3 linked regions of the Homo sapiens genome follow. The protein of the gene in region 1 purifies or fractionates together with the protein of each later gene. This does not show direct contact. Each region holds a gene or a part of one and is shown in the gene's direction. Other genes may lie near its edges. The genes, in order: PWWP2A, BPTF and CHD5.

Region 1 (2,461 bases):
GAATGAAGAAAATGACTCTTCTCTGAAGACAGGACTTGAGAAAATGCGGAGTGGCAAGATGGCACCCAAGCCCCAGTCTCGCTGCACCTCTACCCGCTCAGCAGGTGAGGCCCCTTCAGAAAATCAGAGTCCCTCAAAAGGCCCTGAAGAGGCCAGCAGTGAGGTTCAGGACACAAATGAAGTGCATGTGCCTGGTGATCAGGATGAACCACAGACATTGGGCAAAAAGGGCAGCAAAAACAATATCTCTGTTTATATGACCCTAAATCAAAAGAAATCTGACTCTTCCAGTGCTTCAGTGTGTAGCATTGATAGCACAGATGATTTGAAATCTTCCAACTCTGAGTGTAGTTCTTCTGAAAGCTTTGATTTTCCTCCAGGCAGTATGCATGCACCTTCCACCTCCTCCACTTCCTCCTCTTCAAAGGAAGAGAAAAAGCTCAGTAATTCCTTGAAAATGAAAGTCTTTTCCAAAAACGTCTCTAAATGCGTCACACCAGATGGCAGGACCATATGTGTAGGGGACATTGTTTGGGCCAAGATATATGGCTTCCCTTGGTGGCCAGCCCGTATTCTTACTATAACTGTGAGCCGGAAAGATAACGGCCTTTTAGTCCGACAGGAGGCCCGTATTTCATGGTTTGGGTCTCCAACAACATCTTTCCTTGCTCTTTCACAACTCTCCCCCTTTTTAGAAAACTTCCAGTCACGCTTTAATAAGAAGAGAAAGGGCCTGTATCGCAAGGCTATCACAGAGGCAGCTAAGGCTGCCAAGCAGCTGACCCCCGAAGTGCGGGCTTTGTTGACACAGTTTGAAACGTGAACATGGGCAGTAAGGTAGGCAAGACCATTGGAAGTCACCACAGATTTTCTAGTCTAGTTAGGAATAATTTCTACAAAATAGCGTGGCCAGATTGGAGAGAGAAGTTGCACTCAGTTGGCTGGCTTTTTAATACTTACCTTATAGCCATTTTTAGACTGAGAGCTTAAACTGAACATATAATCAAATTTTGTGTTAAGGAAGTGAGATTTTAGCAGTATTTTTCAGTTTTGAAGTTCGAAACCATCCCAAGGCATAGGAGCCATAGCCTCAACTGAAATTGAATTTTTGTAGGGACTGTTAATTGCCATTTGTACCTAATACTGTATATATACATATATATACGTGTGTGTGTGTGTATATATATATATCCGTGTATGTATATATACACACATATATATGTATATATACACATATATATATATGAAATACAGCCTGTCACTGTGTGACACAGATTGCATATTTGGGATTGCAATAAGGGCTTGGTGAGCTGGGGGAATAGTGGATATTTAATGACTACTTGTTTTTTAAATAATGAACACTTAGCCTTTCTATGCGCATAATGGTGTAAAAGTTAGATGGTTAGGTGTTTGACAAACAGATGGTTGCAATTCAGTTACAGACTGGGGAAATAGCCCAGTGTTTGGGATTAAAACTGTCAAGACTGGATAGGTGTTAGTCATCACTGTCTTTCGTCCAGTGGGGATTTAATAAATACTTTCAAGCTTCTGGTTTGGGAGTTTAGATAGGTTTGATTTTGGATTTGTAAATAGTGATTGCTAAATTTGGTCAGATTTCTCCTGACTGGCTGTTCCTAAATTCTTAGGATATGTCCCAGTAAAATTATACTTTGTGAATTAATTGTCATATGTGTAATTGTTGCATTTTGGATGTACCTAATTTGATAATTAAAACAAAATAATTTCCGTTTAAGGTATCTGTTTGCAGGTCAGAAAATGAGAAAATGTAATTGTGTAATGCTCTGAAATGTAAAAAAAAAAAAAAAAACCAAAAAAAAGCTGTAAATAAAATCAACTAAATCCAAATTATTTGTGTGTGTTTCTCAAAAAGCTTTGAAAAATTTCAAGATGGTAGAAAATTATTCTTTGTAAGAGTGTTTAGAAGAGATGAAAAATCAAACTTTTATTTTGCTATTTGCCCTATCAGGGAATATATTATCTGAGATAAGAAAACTTCAAATAATGAGAGATGAATCAGTATATTCTCAAAATAAGATTTTGTAGTATAGAGGTTTGATAATGCTTTTAGATTTGATATCCCCTTCCTGCCAATTTCTCATAAATGTGTGAATTTTAATTTTTAGTCTTAATATTTCATCACATGCTTCCTTTTTTTACATTCGGGTAATTACAACCGGTCTCTTCTGTTTGGTTTTCTGCCTCATGTATCACTGCTTTTGGGGCTAGTAACTTAGCTTACTATTTTTCTACATGGTCCATCTGTCCCTAAGATTTGATTTCTTATTTTCCATTTTTAGCTTTGTATTAGTAGTGAGAAATATATCTGATTGGCTGTGGAGGCAAGTTTATCTCAAGATTTTTAAAGTTGCTTTCATACTTTGTGTCTTAACTTTTGGATATCTAATTTCAATACTTTTAGAAATTTAAAATTTAGCAGTTT
Region 2 (3,655 bases), on another chromosome or scaffold:
ATTAGAAACGCCACTAAAAACAGAAAGTTGTGTAAGTGTACCCTGTTAGCTGGGCACGGTGGCTCATGCCTGTAATCCCAACACATTGAGAGGCTGAGGCAAGAGGATGCTTGAGCCCAGGAATTCTAGACCAGCCTGGGCAACATGAGGAAACCCCATCTTTACAAAACACAAAAATTAGCCAGGCATGGTGATGTACACCTGTGGTCCCAGCTGCTTCAGAGGCTGAGGTGGGAGGATTGAGCCCATGAGGTAGACGCTGCAGTGAGCCATCTTCATGCCACTGCACTCCAGCCTGGAAGACACAACAAGACCCTGTCTCAAAAAAAAAAAAAAAAAAAAAGGCCCTGTTAGCAAAGGACTAGGTGCTACAGAGAAAAATATTTACATTTTCGTAGTAACGTAAATAATGACATTGGGCCGGGCACGGTGGTTTACATCTGTAATACCAACACTTTGGAAGGCCAAGGCACGTGGATCATCTGAGATCAGGAGTCGAGACCAGCCTGGCCAACATGATGAAACCCTGTCTCTACTAAAAGTACAAAAATTAGCCAGGTGTGGTTGCACATGCCTGTAATCCCAGCTACTCAGGAGGCTGAGACAGAATCACTTGAACCTGGGAGACGGAGGTTGCAGTGCACCAAGACCGCGCCACTGCACTCCAGCCTGGGCCACAAGAGCAAAACTCCGTCTCAAAGATAATAAAAATAATGACATTGGTTTTCGACTTTTAGAATCACCCTATAGACAAAGCATAGAATGATATAATTTTTAAATTATAGGGAAATAAAACTTGGACTCAAAAAAGGGAGGTTGGGAAATGGTTAAGTGAGCTTGGTTCTCCTTGCCATAGCAGGGCTTAAACAAAAGTTGATAAAACAAGAAATAGCAGTATAAGAAATTACCCTGGCCGGGCGCAGTGGCTCATGCCTGTAATCCCAGCCCTTTGGAAGGCCGAGGCGGGCGGATCACCTAAGGTCAGGAGTTCAAGACCAGCCTGGCCAACATCGTGAAACCCCGTCTACACTAAAATAAAAAAATTAGCTAGGTGTGGTGGTGCACGCTTATAAGTCTCAGCTACTTGGGAGGCTGAGACAGGAGAATCACTTGAACCTTGGAGGCGGAGGTTGCAGATCGCACCACTACACTCTAGCCTGGGCAACAAGAGTGAGACTCCGTCTGAAAACAAACAAACAAAAAAAAACCTACCCAGGCCGGGTGTGGTGGCTTATGCCTGTAATCCTAACACTGTGGGAGGCTGAGGTGGGTGAATCACTTGAGGTCAGGGGTTCAAGACCAGCCTGGCCAACATGGTAAAACCTCGTCTCTACTAAAAATACAAAAATTAGCTGGGCCTGGGGGCAGGCACCTGTAATCCCAGCTACTGGGGAGGCTGAGGCAGGAGAATCATTTGAACCTGGGAGGAGGAGGTTGCAGTGAGCTGAGATCCTGCCACTGCACTCCAGCCTGGGCAACACTGAGGCTCCATCTCAAAAAGAAAAATACATCTACCCAGAGAACTGAAAAGTCAAAGGGATTGATCATAGGGAGCCTGGATTTCAGATGGAGTTAAGGTAGGACAGAGGAGCACAACTTCTCATTATAAGCCCCTCTATGCTTTTTCATTTGTACATCGTGGTTATTCCTCTGGTTCAGTTTCTAAAATTGCTTTTTTAAATTGGGAAGGCCTTTGGTGGTAACTGTGAGGTAGAAGCCAAGGAGTGTGAATCCTACCCTGCTGCCAGCTTGCTGGCAGAGCCCACAGGATGACTGCTGGCAACTGCTGATGAAGGAGAGGAAATTGCCTGGAGGTCCTGGGGACTGTAGGCAAGACAAAGGGAATTGGTAAAGGAGAGATGGAGGCCTAGGCTGGGCCTGCACAGTGAAGGGGCCACTTAGGATGTCTTCTTGCCACGTGGTTATTTTATGTAGTTTTTAAATATACTCAAGTTGACATAATTTTCATTAAAGCACATGGGAGCTGAATTGAGAAGTTTGCTCAATTCTGCTTAAATAAACAAATTAGGCTGTGTGCAATGGTGCATGCCTGTGATACCAACACTTTGAGAAGCCAAAGCAGGCAGTTCGCTTGAGCCCAGGAGTTTGAGACCAGCCTGGGCAACATGGGGAAACCCCATCCCTACAGAAAATACAAAAAATTAGCCGGGCATGGTGGCATGTGCCTGTAGTCCCAGCTACCCAGGAGGCTGAGGTAGGAGGATCACCTGAGCCCTGGAGGTTGAGGCTGCAGTGAGCTGTGATTGCGCCACTGCACTCCAGACTGTGCTACAGAGTGAGACCTTGTTTCAAAACAAAACAAAACAAAACAAAATTACAATGTAAAGAGTTGTATAAGGGCAACTTGCTGTTGCCTTTTTAGGGAATTTCTATTGTTTTCCAGATTTAAGGCAGAATGAAACATAACTAGCCAGTTATTGAAAATTGATTTATTTATGGATTTTCAGAATTTCCTTTGCCATATTTTCCCATTTTATGATCTCCAGCATTGTTTGCACATTGTTTTCATTACTGCACTTTGTTATAATTCATCATTTATACCATCCATATTCTTTCTTTTCTTACAGATTGTGATATCTTTAGTCTGAATTTTTAACTGGAATCAGAACTGGATGTTGGGGTCACTCTTTGTTTTATTGTACCTCGTGATTACCTAATTCAAAATTGCCCCCCAAAAAGTCAGATTAGTTAATATAATTTTTTAATGTTAAAGATGTATCGTGGTAAAAAATTTACTCTAGCAGCCATGTTGAACAATGTATTTAAAAATTGTAAACTCTTGGAATACTGTATTTATCTGCTATTTCAATATAAAGTCCTTTGACTTAGTCCTGGTAACTGTACAGTAATTTGGTTTACTAATGAAAGTTGTGAATAAAACTGTGAAACTAGAAGGGAGACTTTCTGGACTTTAATAGAAAAATGTGATTTTAAGATTGCTTTTTCTTTTGTTTTAGCGTAATTTTTCCCTTTATATTCCCCTCATCAATGTAAATAAACACACACACACACACACACACACACACACACACACACCTTTCACCACAATGGTAATGCTTCTGTAAATGCCTCTATTTGTCCAGTTGGCTGAAAATGTTGTAATCTTTATTAGACAAATATATATATATATATATATATATATATATATATATATATTTAAATATTGGCTTTTTCCAGTGAGCTATTATGTTTAGTGTACAGTGAAAAGTTTTAATATTATAGGTTAAAATTTTCTTAATCGTTCTTTTCTATTCGCTTGCCAAGGGTGAATGAAAGAACATGGCTGCTTCTCCCAGACTGACTGACCTTGGCATCCGCATAAAGCATCATTGTTTTCAAAAATGAAGGGTGCTTAATTGTTCCCTTTTTTCTATATTCTGTAGGTCTCATAACAACAAACTGCAGTCTACAGCTTCTTAAAGTTCAGCGTGTTAACCTAACATAAAACACAGCAAGAATCTGGTTGTCTGAACTATTTTAAATTAAGGAGCCAGATGTTTTTAGTCAGGCTATCCTGACAAGACTTGACCTAAACTTCGTTTTTATTGGTCATAACAGTCCAATTATATTCTTGGCCAATTTTGTCCAACGGACAAGAAAAAAGCAAAGTCAACGACACCATTATCTTGTCAAG
Region 3 (3,655 bases), on another chromosome or scaffold:
GAGGTGATGTCTGGGTTTTGTTAAATGTCATAAATAAATTATGAATCCTCTCTTGGGCGGTGTACTGCCCCCCTTTGCCAGCATAAGCCCTGTCTCATGGGGGGAGGTTCGAGGACTAACGGCAGCCTGAGAACTCCTTGGCCAGCGTCTAGGGTGGCCCTGAGAACCTCTGGCCCAGCAGTGGCCAAACTAGAGACCGCTGCCCTCTGCCCTTCACCACTGCCGCCCTGACCCTCCTGGGTCTCGCTGGGCTCTGCCTGCCATTGCTGAGCCCCTGCAGGCATCGTGTGGGTCCTTTGCATTCACAGTTTTTACTTCTCCCCATAGCCCTGGGGGAAAGGCTGCCACATTAGGCCCATTTCACAGATGAAGAGAGAGGCTCAGTGGGGAGGGGACTTGCTGGTATCACCTCCAGGAGGGGTAGCTTGAAGCCTCTGCTGCCCCTGTTGCTCCCTCCTCCTGACCTCCTGGTGGCCTTGTTCTCTGCTTGTTGCTGGTTGGGGAGTCCAGGTGGGGAACAGAAATAGCCCCTCTCGGCCGGGCGCGGTGGCTCATGCCTGTAATCCCAGCACTTTGGGAGGCCGAGGCGGGTGGATCACGAGGTCAGGAGATCGAGACCATCCTGGCTAACATGGTGAAACCCTGGCTCTACTAAAAATACAAAAAATTAGCCGGGTGTGGTGGCGGACACCTGTAGTCCCAGCTACTTGGGAGGCTGAGGCAGGAGAATGGCGTGAACCTGGGAGGCGGAGCTTGCAGTGAGCCGAGATCGCGCCACTGCACTCCAGCCTGGGTGACAGAGCGAGAGTCCGTCTAAAAAAAAAAAAAAAGAAATAACGCCTCTCCCCAGGTCCTGGAGAGAGTGGTGGACATTGAGTGGGGTCCCTGTCCTTGGCAGGTTTGCCGGCCTTTGCAACCTGGTGATGGTGTTCTCGTCCCAGCTCCTGGCTTGGCCCCTGCAAATCCTTCAACCACCCAGAATCAGATGACCTAACTTTCGCTCCACAGTCACGCGCCTTCCCCTTGTTTTGATCACCTTGTGTTTGCCAAGTGCCCTGGCGGCTGCGTCCTTGCTCTGCTGCTGCCCCTCCCCAGAGGAGTGAGGGGCTGGAGCCTGGGTCTGGCAGAGCTGTGGGGCTGTGTGCAGGGGGACTAGTGTGGTGAACCAGCCTTGACCCCCTTGAGGGACCTGTGACCTGCCAGACCACAGACCAGCCTGAGTCACCTCAGTGTCCCCAGGGCATCCACCGAGCCGGTTTACACAGCGTGGGCTGTTTCAGTGGGAGGGTGCTGGGGGAGAGACTTCGCAAGGGGGTGGGCGCCCACTGCCTGTGTTCAAACAGTGGCAGCTTCACCACTGCCAGCTGTAGGACTGAGATGTAGGTAAATAATGAGGTCCTTTGAGCCTCAGTTTCCCAATCTGCAGATGGGGATAAGAATAGAACCCTGAGCCAGGTGTGGTGGTTGTGCGTGTTGTCCCAGCTGCTCAGGAGGCTGAGGTGGGAGGGTCGCTCGAGCCCAGGAGGTCGAGGCCTGCAGTGAGCCATGATCATAACACTGCACTCCAGCCAGCGACTCTGTCTCTAAAATAAATAAATAAATAAATAAAGCCCCAAACCAGAAAGAATAGTACCCCTCTCTGAGTTGCTGTGTTGAACTGATACAAATTAATCAGTCCTAGGTACTTTGGGCCTGGCACGAGCCTGGCAGGTGGTATGCAGTTATCACGACTGCTGCTATTGCAATGCGCTACCCTGAGAAGGGCCCACCTCATCGGCCTGGCCGCAGCCTGCAGTGGCTCAGCCTAGGCCAGCCTGGGGGTCCCACAGGGCTGAGCTGGCGCATACTGGGAGCTAGAGAGGGGCTGAGGGAGCTCTGGAGAAAGCAGCAGAAGGTGCCTCTCCTTCCTCTGGTCGACTTGAGCCCCACCCCGCCTCCACCCCCAGGAGGTGGGTGATCACAGGGTAATGGGTCTTAATTAGAGCAGGCTTGGATCCGTGGAGCCTCAGGCCCTGGAGGGTTAGGGCTGGTGCATGAGGGCACTGCCAGGTGGGCCAGGAGGGTGGTGGGGCAGCCACGAGGGGCCAGGAGCTGGCAGGACAAGGAGTTCTGAGGTGAGGTTGCTCCTCCCTGGAGCCCCTCACCCGGGACGGGCAGGATGCCACCTTAACACTGGCTGCATGCTCTGCGTCTTGGAACCCTCTGGGCCTCTGCTCTGTCCCCACCAGATGGAGCCATAGGGAGGAGGGACTGGTGGGCTCAAGGGCACAGGCTGGGCTTGGGGAAAGGCTGACCGTGCAGTTGCTTGTATGGTGACCCCCAGATCTGGTTTTAGAAAGCTCAGGACCTGCTGCGGGAGCAGAGAGTGTCCAAGGGCAGAAAGGGGCTGGGGCTTGGCTGAAGACGGGAGCGTGTGAGGTGTTGGGGGGGGCAGTGTCATAGAGAATCAGGCGTGTGGTGACCTCAGGGCCACCCACCAGAAGCCATCTGGGGAGAGGAAGGGCCCATCAGAGACAGGGTTAGGCAGGGCTGAGTCCCCGTCTCCGTGTGCCAGTTCCAGAGCCTTCTCAGAGGTGGGTTTCACCAGGCAGAGGCCCTGGGCTGTGAGGTCTTCTGGGAACGGAGCTGGGGTCTGTCCATGGGCAGAGGGTCTGGGGCCTTGTCCTCGAAGGCCTGTTCTGGGCGTGGGTTAGGGCCAGAGCAGGGGTCCCCCTTTGTCCTCCCCTTACCCACGGGCAGATCCCAGACTTCCTTCCAGAACTTCTGGCAGCCACCTGTGCATACCCTCATCCGTTCTGTTGGTCAGGCCACCAGTCAGTGACCATGTGCTGGGCTGGGTTTCCTAAGTCTGGGACCACCCTGCCGGAAGGGGACAGCTGGGAGGAAGCAGGAGGGAGAGGCCCCCCCTCGAGATTGCATCAGCCAGAGCCCGTTACATAAGCAGTGCTGGGCACCGCCAGGGTGTGGGGGTGGCTCTGCCCAGGCGGTCTCCTGCGGTGGCGGGGGAGGCGGAGGCCCGGTGGCAGAGCGGGCAGTTGTGGACTGGCATCCCATCGGCTGCCCCACCACAGACAGCTCCCCGCCAGCCCTGCCACTGCCCCACCGACACCTGCTCTGCAGGACGACTCCGAGGGGGTCCCCGTGCACGTTTTCAGCTGGTTTGAAAAATCCCCGCCTTTCCACACTAGTGATCAGAGGAATGGGGTGGGGTCAGCCGGAGCAGCCCAGCCCCTGCCCCTGGCTGCTTGGGGCCTCACCCACATAAACCCACCTGGGGCGGCCCTTGCTGCTGGCTCCCCTGTGTGCCCTAGCCCTCCACAGGGTGCCCTCCCTGTGTGGGAGCCCCAAGCACCTGGCCACCCTTGAGGGAGGCCCTGGTGCAGAGAGGCACCAAGACAGTGGTGCAGCCCCCACCTTCCACTGGTGCAAACACCTTCCACTGGTGCACATTGGCCCCGTGGGATGCAAGGGTGGGAGGGGCGTCCGCTCAGCCACCAGAGCCCCGGTGCCCCCGAGGAGTGGGGACAGTGGGGCTAAAGCTGCACCCATAGTGTGGGCCATGGGAGCCCCAGAGACCCAGGGTAGGAGCCCTCCTGTCCCCCTTTCCCCGCTTAGGACTCTCTGGGGGTCCCAGGCCGGGCGGTGGGGGCCTGTG

What was found.
Region 2: the proteins of PWWP2A (region 1) and BPTF purify together in Homo sapiens (affinity purification with mass spectrometry, with the first as the bait; one large-scale study listed by BioGRID). This does not show direct contact.
Region 3: the proteins of PWWP2A (region 1) and CHD5 purify together in Homo sapiens (affinity purification with mass spectrometry, with the first as the bait; one large-scale study listed by BioGRID). This does not show direct contact.

What each region holds. Positions count from the first base shown.
Region 1 is NC_000005.10:160,090,744-160,093,204, reverse strand, and holds the end of PWWP2A (PWWP domain-containing protein 2A), read left to right. Parts: coding exon 1-823; 3' UTR 824-1,866; downstream 1,867-2,461. UniProt on the Homo sapiens protein: Chromatin-binding protein that acts as an adapter between distinct nucleosome components (H3K36me3 or H2A.Z) and chromatin-modifying complexes, contributing to the regulation of the levels of histone acetylation at actively transcribed genes.
Region 2 is NC_000017.11:67,978,848-67,982,502, forward strand, and holds part of BPTF (nucleosome-remodeling factor subunit BPTF), read left to right. Parts: intron 1-2,588; coding exon of another isoform or gene 2,589-2,595; exon of another isoform or gene 2,596-3,404; coding exon 3,405-3,441; 3' UTR 3,442-3,655. UniProt on the Homo sapiens protein: Regulatory subunit of the ATP-dependent NURF-1 and NURF-5 ISWI chromatin remodeling complexes, which form ordered nucleosome arrays on chromatin and facilitate access to DNA during DNA-templated processes such as DNA replication, transcription, and repair.
Region 3 is NC_000001.11:6,170,284-6,173,938, reverse strand, and holds part of CHD5 (chromodomain-helicase-DNA-binding protein 5), read left to right. Parts: intron 1-3,655. UniProt on the Homo sapiens protein: ATP-dependent chromatin-remodeling factor that binds DNA through histones and regulates gene transcription. May specifically recognize and bind trimethylated 'Lys-27' (H3K27me3) and non-methylated 'Lys-4' of histone H3.